Linked DNA regions of Homo sapiens. The protein of the gene in region 3 interacts with the protein of the main gene of each other region in a pairwise test. Each region holds a gene or a part of one and is shown on either strand. Other genes may lie near its edges.

Region 1 (3,500 bases), on a different chromosome or scaffold from region 3:
TTGCTCTGTCTCAAAGACTTTCTCCTCAGCTATCCATAAATCATGCCCTCTCACCTTCTTTAGGTCTTTAGTTATGACACCTGATTGCAATAACACTTTTCCTTTATCCCTCCATTTAAAAGTATAGCCCCTCCCGTATTACTCCCTCCTCCGGAACACCAGGATCTGTCATACTGTATAATTTACATATTCATTTTTGTCCATTATATGTCTTCTACTAGAATGTAAGCTGCAGGCATTTTTGTTTTATTCACTGCTTGTTCTTCAGTGCTTAGAAAAGTCCCCGATGTATACTAAGTACTCAAATATTTATTCCAATTGAATTAATGGCGTGTGTCCTACACTTTGGGAAATACATATACTGGCAACACCTCCCACAATCTGGGGTCCCTCCAGTGAGCCTCTCTTCACAGTCACATGGTTAGTCCTGTTTGTCTCTGAGAGTCTGGCCAATTGAGAGCTCAGCATTCAAGGCAGAGAACTTGAAACTTGACTGGATCCTGAGTTTTTTCCAGAGAAAATAGTGCATATGCCAGGGAAAATGGAGGAAGGAGAGACAGTCAGGATTGGTTGGGAGTGCAACCCTAGGAGAGATGATTTGTTCCCCAAGCACAGAAGGAAAGTCCATCTCTCTCTCCTCCCATAGCCCCCTCCCTTGTCTGGCCCCAGTACCTAGGTTCTGTTCTGGAAGACACCTAGAAATGGCTCAAGCCTCAGCCTGAACCCGGTACTGTGGCTTGAACCTGTGAGGTGTTTTCATGCGTTGCTTTCAAGAGCTACTTGCCAGGCTTTGGGATTTTTGGAAAACAATTGAGAACCAGCTATTCCCTTTTAGCTTTTTTGTAAGTTAAAAGAGAAACTATCACTTAAATAATTGAAAAACAATAGAATATTTTATCCTTGGTGCCTTCAGTTGACTCTTAGTTGATTAAGAGGATACCATTTTTATTTCCCATATCCATGGTGACTATTCCTCCTAAAGGTTGTTTGAGAGTCATGCCAACAAATAAGCGTAGTCTTAGCCTCTTGTCTTCCAAGGTACTTTTGTTAGCACCTGATATTGATGGTTTTCATCTCATACTAGTTGACCCCAATTCATAGACATTTAGACATGTAAGCCCCTTAGGAGGTTTGTCCAAGGGGTAGGGGTGGGGTATCTTTCTAAGTTTGGTTATCTAGCCCTAGTCACTTCACCTGTCAGAGAACCATGTGCCCCTTCCCTCTGGTTGTGCTGGTTGATACTGATAGCTTTATAAGTAGCAAGTTTGAGGTGTGATAACTTTCCGTGATTTTTTTGCATGTTAGCATCTTGATTCCCAGGGAGAGATAATGAGCAGCTAGCTCTAGGCTTACAAGTTCCCCTGGAGTTGCTGGTATCTTGAATTTCTTTCCATTTATTTTAGGAGTAAAAGTCCCTCGCAATTTCCGACTGTTGGAAGAACTCGAAGAAGGCCAGAAAGGAGTAGGAGATGGCACAGTTAGCTGGGGTCTAGAAGATGACGAAGACATGACACTTACAAGATGGACAGGGATGATAATTGGGCCTCCAAGAGTAAGCGTCGAGCTACGGCTATAAATGTCAATGTCTTAAATTCACTGTGCCTCCTTTTAAAAAATATTAGCCTTATCACGGAAAAAAAGCTCACCAATGGTATATTTTCTGAAATGTGGCTATTCTTTTTTGACCAGTTTCAGTTTATATATTTGAACCTCCTCTGATGCTGTTTAACCCCTCTAAATGGTAAGCAAAAACCTGTTTAGACTCATAGTGTGAATTTATATGACAATGTAGACAGTGAGGTGTGAAGTCATTGCACCATCAGATGTCGTTCAGAACAATCTCTGGGCTAACCAAATAACTAGGCCCTAGGTATAGCCAGCATTCCTGAAGCCAGTCTCCAAATTAACTCTGGAAAGCCTTCCCAGTTGTGGTTTTTCTTCACTGTCTCCCAGGTCTGCCGTGCACCTGTATCCTAGTTCCTTGGGCCATTCAGCAAAGGTCCCTGGCAAGCCTGTCAGCTCCTGGTCTATTCCAGGCACTACTAGACCCAGAGGCCTTTGCAAAGAAGACGAAGACAATGAGGATGGGGAAAAGTGGCCTCTTTCAGACCTTCCTGATTTGTGAGAGTTCCCAGTCTTCATAATGCCAGCCAACCGTTTTTTGAGGACACATAGTAAACCCTCAAGAAATGTCTCTTAACTCTCACAAGACCCCATTGTTAGGTGCAATTGCATTCCATTTCACAGATGAGGAGACAGACTCAGAGGAGTCAGATCTCTTGCCCAAAGTCACATAGCTGGTAACCCCCAAACCAGATCTGACTCCAGAGCCTGTGCTCTTAACCACTGTGCTGTGGTGTCTCCCTTTTGTTTACATTTTGAGTTTTCATCTGTTACCATTATAGAAGATACTAATCAAGTAGTAACTTGATGTAGGAGTCAAGAAATTGATTTCCATACTGTGACACACACTTCAGACAAGCAGTAAGGGCCTCTGCCTGAATGTAGCAAGACCTGTCCTGTGTCTGCTTGTGTTTAAGGATGATGACAACATTCATTCTTTTGATTGTGTGCAGGACTCTGCACTAGCACTGTGAGAGCAGAAAGACATGTAGGGCGTGGCCCGGGCTGGAACAGGGACAAGTGACATGTTCGTTAAGTGTTAGGACACTAATGCTCATTTCAGATGGTCATCAACACTCATGGTGAATGATTGGCTTTGCCATTTAATGTTGCTTCTTAAGTCATTTTGTGACCCTATAGTTTTGTGGAGTTTTAAAAATATATACATTTGATCTGTTTTTACTCATTTCTTTATCCTTTTTTTCCTGTGAAAACCAGAATTTTCTGCGTCTGCTAAATACCGGGGAAAACCCAATCTAGAAATCCTGTTTCTCCATGGAGATAATTTTCTTTGCTGTCTCTGAAGGTCCATCATATGCTGACATCTTCTTCACTGCATGTCTTCTCTTCCTAAGAATGATTTCGGTTTCTTGAGGATGAGAACTGTGCTTCCCTCCTTACTTCCCAGAATACCTAGAAATGACTCAGAATGGGGTACTCAGTAGATTTGTTAATCAACTTACTGATTTACAGGTTCTAAAATACTGAGAATTGAACCAATGTACAACATTGCGATACACTAAATACCACTGAATTGTACACTTTCAAAAAAACACACAAAACAATGCATCAGTAAATTCTGCTGAAAATATTCTGTCTGCCTAAAACAGCTTGGGCTACCCTGAATTTCAGTTTATCTCTTTCCAAAAGAGGCTTTGGAAGTTGTAATGCGTAGCTACGGTATGCCAGGAGTCCTCCATGTATTTGTTTTTGGTAACAGCTTTATTGGGATAGAATTCACCCTTTTAAATATACAGTTCGGTGGTCTTACATTCAGAGTTGTGCATCCGTCACTAATTTCAGAACGTTTTCATCACCTCAAAAAGGAACCCATACCCATCGGTAGGCACCCCCCATTCTCCCTCCCACATCCCCCA
Region 2 (3,500 bases), on a different chromosome or scaffold from region 3:
TTGTTTTTGTTTTGTTTCTTTTGGCCGCCATTTCTCTGATCCAGGGTTAAGCTAAAGAGAACCATTGAAGTAATTGTTGATACTGTACATTTCTTCATTGTTAAATACGAATGAGAATTCGTAGAATCAAATACGATTGCAGCTTGCTTTGATTCACACGGCTTTGTGTGAATCAGATCTTTAAACAATTTTAGAGGAGCTGTCATATTTTCTAAAATACTGTTAAAAAATTGAATCAGTTCTCAAAATTTCCCACCCGCCCCTCCCCGTCCTTTTTTTTATGGAGACAGGGTCCGGCTCTGTCACCCAGGCTGGAGTGCAGTGGTGCGATCACAGCTCAGCAGCCTGACTTGGTGGGCTCAGGTGATCCTCCCACCTCAGCCACCCAAGTAGCTGGGACTGTAGGCGTGCACCACCATACCCAGCGAATTTTTTGTAGAGGCAGAGTCTCACTATTTTGCCCCAGACTGGATGACATTTTTGGTTTTTTTTTTTCTTCTTGAGATGGAGTCTTGCTCTGTTGCACAGGCTGGAGTGCAGTGGTGCAATCTCAGCTCACTGCAGCCTCCGCCTCCCAGATTCAAGCGATTCTTCAGTCTCAGCCTCTGGAGTAACTGGGATTACAGGCATGCGCCACTACCCACAGCTAATTGTTTTATTTTTAGTAGAGATGGGGTTTCACCATGTCAGCCAGGCTGGTCTCAAACTCCTGACCTCAAGTAATCCGCCCACCTCGGCCTTCCAAAGTGCCGGGATTACAGGCATGAGCCACCATGCCTGGCCTGGATAACATTTTTAAAGTAAAAAAACGAAGGGAAGTGGTTCTCAACATACGTTTGGGGTTTTTAATATACTGAGTTGCTGGGTAATGAAGCAGAGGCCTCCACTTCTATATCCTGTACTCAGAGAAGCTCAGAACCTTGGGGTCCTTATAGGCTTCTAGCCCATGGTGCACAGTTGTGTCTTGGGAGCATTACGGAAGCCAGAGCCTCTAGAAGTCCCAGTGACTTGTTCCATGGCACACGGCGGTGGCTGAACTCAGCAGGGAGTGAAGCTCCTTTTCAGAAGGGCTCTCTAGTCATCCTTCATATGAAAAGTTACCCGTTTGGAATGTGTACCCACTGGGTTTGACTCAGGTATTTAGCTAATGAATTGGACATTCAGGGGACTTTGGACTTTCTGAATGGTTAGAGAAATTTAGAAAACAAATGAATTTAGCTTTCACTTCATCAGTTCCACTTTAAGGAAATTACAGGCATCATCACAGTACAATGCAAAGAGCAAGTAAGTTACAGTAAAGGTTATAGGACCAGAATTTAGCAAGCGCCTATGAGGTTAAACCGCAGGCTCAGGTTCGTAGAAACCTCTGAACTCCTTTCATGATATGAGCTAGCCATCCCGTGTTGTTGCTGCTTCCAATTATGACACGAAGAATTGAGCTGGAGCCCAAGGAGACCTGCCTCACCGCGTTGTGCCTGTTTGTCACATGCCGACCTCCGTAGTGTGTTTGCGGTGCTGAGCGTCTTTGTGGTTAATTGAACTGTCCAAAAACTTGGGCCTTCTAAGGCTTCTTCACCTCTCTCCTGAGCTGCTGTTGAGGCTGATTGTTGAAAGGAGGTTGTTCCCTCCTGCTCTCTGGTGGCCGGAGGTTACTAACCAGCGGGCAGTCTGGTATTTTTCCACCACGACATCACTGCTTTGACACTTATGCTGTACTGCAGGCTGAAGACTGAAATGTTTATTTTCTATGTAGTTGCTTCCCAAGGCTAATAGAACGAGGACTTCGATTTTATGAACTTTAGTGTGGAGTCATTGTGTCAAGGTCAATTAGGAGATTTATGTTATGTACAAGTTCTAATTCAACTTGTTTCAGGCAAATTCAAAAGAAGTTCTTCATTAGTTTTTGGCTGGTGTTATAGACCAGTCATTTGACTTTAGACAGAAAACATTATTCATTGATTCTGTATCTTCACTATAATTCCCTATCATAAAAATAATGCCTGTGGCTATTGAGAGCAAAACTCTTTTCTTAAAGTAATACTTTTCCTTTACAGGGCAATATAAATACCCCTAATGCTTATATGAGTCAGCTTTAGTAACTGGGTGCAGTGCCTCACGCATTTTAGTAGGAATTCTGTGGTACATCAGCTTCAACTTGTTCCCGTTTATGCAGAGTAAAACACATGTATTTAAGTGGTTTTTAAAAACATATTGCTCAGTAGTGCAGAGTGTTTTACGACCCTGCCAGTGTTTTCCATTTTCTCAGCAACCTCCAGAAGTTGAGTGCAGGGGGATAGTGCTGGCCGGTGTGTCTGGGTTTCGTGGGGTTGGTTTGTGTTTGCACAGGTTTCACTGCTGTGTTTCTTCTTCCAGTGCGAAGTGCCAGAGGGTGGACTGGTCCCCAAATCTCTGTACCGGACTGCAGAGGAGCTGGAGAACGAAGACCTGAAGCTCTGGACTGAGACCATCTACCAGTCTGCAAGCGTCTTCAAAGGAGCCCCACATGAGGTACGTCCTCCGCCTTCCTGCACCTGGGCCGGCCCTTCCTCCGCAGAGGGCCTGGCCCTCGCAGGGCTTCCTGGCAGCCTTTCATTCAGAACAGTCCACTCGTTTTTCTGCTCTTTGTCTTTAGGCTTTTGTTGACACTCGATATTTAGTTTCAGTAAATGTCAACGTCGAAGAATGGGTCTCTCTCAGAATAGAAACTAGCTGTGCTTGATCAGAGTGCCTGGAAAGGAAATTGGATCTCTTGACCTCCATTTTACTAAAGCCACCAAACACAGAGATAGGAATAGCTAATCTTTCCTTGTTGGAGCACTTAACTCCTGAATTTAGTTTATTTCATGGTTATATTGAACAAGTTTCATGTGCTACTTTTTCTTTTTTTTTTTCTAGACAGAGTTTTGCTCTGTTGCCCAGGCTGGAGTACACTGGCATGATCTCAACTCACTGCAACCTCCGCCTTATGGGTTCAAGCAATTCTCCTGCCTCAGCCTCCCAAGTAGCTGGGATTACAGGCACCCGCCACCACGCCTGGCTAATTTTTGTATTTTTAGTAAAGGTGGGGTTTCACCATGTTGGCCAGGCTGGTCTCGAACACCTGACCTCAGGTGATCCACCTGCCTTGGCCTCCCAAAGTGCTGGGATTACAGGTGTGAGCCACTGTACCTGGCCCGTTTGCTACTTTTTCTTGGCTGGGTTTTGGTTATTTATAGATATCTTGGGGATTTTCCGATTTCTGTAAGTCTAATGGAGCAAGGAGGGTGTTCCTGTATTCCTTTTTTGCTGTCACTTTTGGTAGAGAAGCAAGGGCGTTCCGTGTTCCTGTGCATGCCATATGTCTGTCCTGTAGCATCACGAGTGACCTGAAGCAGGAGGGGCCTGCAGCGGAATCTCCCTTCTCAGCTAGGACAAGGTTCGTGGCCCAGAGTTGTTGGAGAGGATGGTGGCACTCTGTGCAGAGCAGGTGTCAGTGAGGATGTGGTGCTGGCTTGGGCAAT
Region 3 (4,186 bases):
TGCTGCTTTACTTTTGAGGCCAGAAAAATGGGAAGGCTCCCCTCTGACTCTGGAAGAGAGACGCAAACCGTAATCTCAACAACACAATCCCCACCTCCAACCTCAGCCGCCCTGGAGCCTCTCTCCCGCCAGTCCGCCCACTGGAACACGGGTTCCATGTGCCATCCAGGGTCAACGCCGCTCTGGGGACGCGTCAGGCCCAGCGCACAGCCTGGGCAGCTCAGCCTGTCAGCTGAGCACGGGCGCCTCAAGGGGTGCGGCCCTCTCAGAAGGAAGGTGAGTCTCCCTGGAGCCCCTGACGACAGCGAAGCGGCTGGGCGCTCTCCGGGGAGTGGGCGCGGCACCCAAGAAGGGTTTCTTACAGTTCCAAGAGAGGACCCCAGCCACAGTCACTCCAGAGCCCACCCGGGGCTTGGAGGAGGCTCTGGAAAATGAGGGATGGGGGAGTGTGCAGAACAGGGGGCGGAGGCTGGCAGGAGCCGAGGGAGGGCTTGGTCGGGTGCGAAGAGTGCCTGGGAGGAGTTAGAGTGGGGAGGGGGTGCGGCGGCGGGGAGAGAAGAGGCGGAGCTGGGGGACCAGACCGCTAAAGGAGAAAGGGGGATTCCAGGCAAGGGGAATGTGGCCAGGCAGTGCGGGAGGGCGGCAGCGGCCAGGCTAATATTCGCGACCCCGACTGGGGCGCGGCAACTTCTGCCCTCAGTCCCCACAAGCTCCCGGCCGCGATTCGCGGCCGAGAAATTCTGCGGAGGGGCCGGTGGGTCAGAGCCAGGCCAGGCAGTTGCTGAGCCTTCCCCTCCCCTCCTGGCGGGAGTGTGTGTGCAAGGGGCCAGGGGGCGGAGTCGGAGAAAGGGTTGGGGGTGTCCGTGTCCAGCGCTCCTCCGGACGCGGCTCCACAATCCAGCTGCGAGAACAGATGGACGCAGCGGCGGCTCACCTCGGGGGCTTCCTGCTCGCTGTGCGCCGAGGTCCAGGCTGAAGCGGAGATCGCAAGCCTCTGGCTCCCGCCTCTCCCAAGGGGCCTCGAGGAACCGGCTGCCGCGCCCCCTTCCCCAAGAGGAGAAGAGCGGGCGCTGACCCCGCGAGTCCTAGAACCGCGGGCGGGGGGCAGGCAGGGGGCGGGGGGCAGAGGGCCAGCTACCGGCGCGGAACGCCCATCCCAGGGGCTGGTTCAAGACTTCCACACCGAGAGCCCTTCCTGGGCCTCCAGCCCTGGAGCATCTGGAGAGCGGACCCCTGCCCGGCCACGCCCCGCCCCCGGCCCCCGCCCCGCCGACGTCGCATTAGCATGAGCGACGTAAGTGGCCCGGGCACCACTCGGGGGCTGGGACTCGCCGCGTCACAGCCCCGAGTGGAAGGGAAAAAAAAAGAGGAGGCGGCGGAGGAGGCAAGAGCCGACGCGAGGGGAGGGGAGCGCAGCGGCGGGGCTAACGGGCGGGCAAGCGGGCGGGCGGCAACAGCATGTCCCTCGGCCAGCGCGGGCGGCCTCTTAGCGCGGCGGGGGCTGCTCTGGGCGCGCCCCGGGCGAAGTGCGCCCAGTCTCCGGCCCCGGCCCCTCGGCGCGCCCGACTTCCCGGCCGCCCCTGAGCCCAGCAGCCGCGGGTCCCGGGATCGGCTAAGAGTAGCTGCAACGCCTCGCCGGACGGAGTCCTTTCCTTTCCCGGGACGCTGGGCCATGAGCTCCGCGGCCACCTGAGGCACAGGGGAGTCTGCTCGGCCAGGACAGCCTCCCCGAAGTCCCGTGCCCTCGCCTCTGCACTGCGGGACGCCAGCGCTCGGCCCTGGCGGAGGCGTCCTCGGAAGAGCATCGGGGTGGGGGCATGGAATCCGCGGAACCTGCGGGCCAGGCCCGGGCGGCGGCCACCAAGCTGTCGGAGGCTGTGGGCGCGGCGCTGCAGGAGCCCCGGCGGCAGAGGCGCCTGGTGCTTGTTATCGTGTGCGTGGCGCTGTTACTGGACAACATGCTGTACATGGTCATCGTGCCCATAGTGCCCGACTACATCGCCCACATGCGCGGGGGCGGCGAGGGCCCCACCCGGACTCCCGAGGTGTGGGAGCCCACCCTGCCGCTGCCCACTCCGGCCAATGCCAGCGCCTACACGGCCAACACCTCGGCGTCCCCGACAGCTGCGTGGCCAGCGGGCTCAGCCCTTCGGCCCCGCTACCCTACGGAGAGCGAAGACGTGAAGATCGGGGTGCTGTTTGCTTCCAAGGCTATCCTGCAGCTGCTAGTGAACCCCTTGAGCGGGCCCTTCATCGACCGCATGAGCTACGACGTGCCGCTGCTGATCGGCCTGGGCGTCATGTTCGCCTCTACAGTCCTGTTCGCCTTCGCCGAGGACTACGCCACGCTGTTCGCGGCGCGCAGCCTGCAGGGCCTGGGCTCAGCCTTCGCCGACACGTCTGGCATAGCCATGATCGCCGATAAGTACCCGGAGGAGCCGGAGCGCAGTCGTGCACTGGGCGTGGCGCTGGCCTTCATTAGCTTCGGAAGCCTAGTGGCCCCGCCCTTCGGGGGCATCCTCTATGAGTTCGCCGGCAAGCGCGTGCCCTTCTTGGTGCTAGCTGCCGTGTCGCTCTTTGACGCGCTGTTGCTGCTGGCAGTGGCCAAACCCTTCTCGGCGGCTGCACGGGCTCGGGCCAACCTGCCAGTGGGCACTCCCATCCACCGCCTCATGCTAGACCCCTACATTGCCGTGGTGGCCGGCGCGCTCACCACCTGTAACATTCCCCTCGCCTTCCTCGAACCCACCATTGCCACGTGGATGAAGCATACGATGGCGGCTTCCGAGTGGGAGATGGGCATGGCCTGGCTGCCGGCCTTCGTGCCTCATGTGCTGGGCGTCTACCTCACCGTGCGCCTGGCGGCGCGCTACCCACACCTGCAGTGGCTGTACGGCGCGCTTGGGCTGGCTGTGATCGGCGCCAGCTCGTGCATCGTGCCCGCCTGCCGCTCCTTCGCGCCGCTAGTGGTCTCACTATGCGGCCTCTGTTTTGGCATAGCCCTAGTCGACACAGCACTGCTGCCCACGCTCGCCTTCCTGGTGGACGTGCGCCATGTCTCAGTCTATGGCAGCGTCTACGCCATCGCCGACATCTCCTATTCGGTGGCCTACGCGCTCGGGCCCATAGTGGCAGGCCACATTGTGCACTCGCTGGGCTTTGAGCAGCTCAGCCTTGGCATGGGACTGGCCAACCTGCTCTATGCTCCCGTCTTGCTGCTGCTCCGCAACGTGGGCCTCCTGACGCGCTCCCGTTCCGAGCGCGATGTGCTGCTTGATGAGCCACCGCAAGGTCTGTACGATGCGGTGCGCCTGCGTGAGCGTCCTGTGTCTGGCCAGGACGGCGAGCCTCGCAGCCCGCCTGGCCCTTTTGATGCGTGCGAGGACGACTACAACTACTACTACACCCGCAGCTAGCATCCCCACTCCTCCTCCAGCCCACCCAACCGCCTTGGGTCAAGGGGGCTGCTCTGCAAGCCCACTGGCCAGCTCTGGCTCAGGGCCCACCTCCTCCAGCGAGTACCCCAGCCACTCCTCAACCTTGACTTCTGCCCAAATCCCCTCCCTGTGACCCGTTCCATATCCCTTTCTCTCTTGTCCAATGGGGCTTGGAGCACCGAGGCCAGCGAAGCCATCGCGCTCCTTGCGGAGGTGAAGAGGACCCTGAGTCCCCACCTGCGGCTCCCCTGTGTAGAGCCTGCATCTGTCTGTCCTTCCTTCCATTGCTCCCAGTGCCAAACTTGGGCCGCTGCACCGCGGCGCCTCCGCCCAAATCAATAAACTGTGTCTGTCCCAGGAGGCCGAGTCTCTTTACTGGTGGGGGGTGCGTGGAGGCGCGCAGGGCCAGAGCAGAGGGGAGGGTGAACTGGGTCTCCAAGTCCCAATCCAGACCTAAGCCAAACTAACACGTAGGCACCTGTAGCTGTTTTTCTACCTGGAAAAGGGGATAGGAAGGAAGCAAACCCAACAAAGGCTGTCACCCACGGTCACCAAGGAGCACCATGCTCCCCTCAGCCCAGGATAGACCCTCTTTTCCAGGCCTAGCGCAGAGCCCGGGGATGCCGCCCGGGGGAGCCTGAGGACCCGCTCCAGCTAGGCACGCCAGGCCCCGCCCTTTGAGGACACGCCCCACACCAGCCTCAGAGCTCTGAGGTGCCTGGGCTGAGCTTCCCTTCAGACCAGAATCC

The links. Proteins that work in one complex are often made in the same cells at the same time.
Region 1: the proteins of SLC18A3 (region 3) and PEDS1-UBE2V1 interact in a two-hybrid assay, tested with the Homo sapiens proteins (one large-scale study listed by BioGRID).
Region 2: the proteins of SLC18A3 (region 3) and SEC14L1 interact in a two-hybrid assay, tested with the Homo sapiens proteins (one study listed by BioGRID).

What each region holds. Positions count from the first base shown.
Region 1 is NC_000020.11:50,094,724-50,098,223, reverse strand, and holds part of PEDS1-UBE2V1 (TMEM189-UBE2V1 fusion protein), read left to right. Parts: intron 1-1,403; coding exon 1,404-1,552; exon of another isoform or gene 1,553-1,738; coding exon of another isoform or gene 1,739-1,741; intron 1,742-1,953; coding exon of another isoform or gene 1,954-1,977; exon of another isoform or gene 1,978-2,809; intron 2,810-3,500. Other genes in the region: UBE2V1 (ubiquitin-conjugating enzyme E2 variant 1), read left to right, coding at 1,404-1,552.
Region 2 is NC_000017.11:77,206,969-77,210,468, forward strand, and holds part of SEC14L1 (SEC14-like protein 1), read left to right. Parts: intron 1-2,373; coding exon 2,374-2,508; intron 2,509-3,500.
Region 3 is NC_000010.11:49,608,924-49,613,109, forward strand, and holds SLC18A3 (vesicular acetylcholine transporter), read left to right. Parts: upstream 1-1,386; 5' UTR 1,387-1,817; coding exon 1,818-3,416; 3' UTR 3,417-3,797; downstream 3,798-4,186. UniProt on the Homo sapiens protein: Electrogenic antiporter that exchanges one cholinergic neurotransmitter, acetylcholine or choline, with two intravesicular protons across the membrane of synaptic vesicles.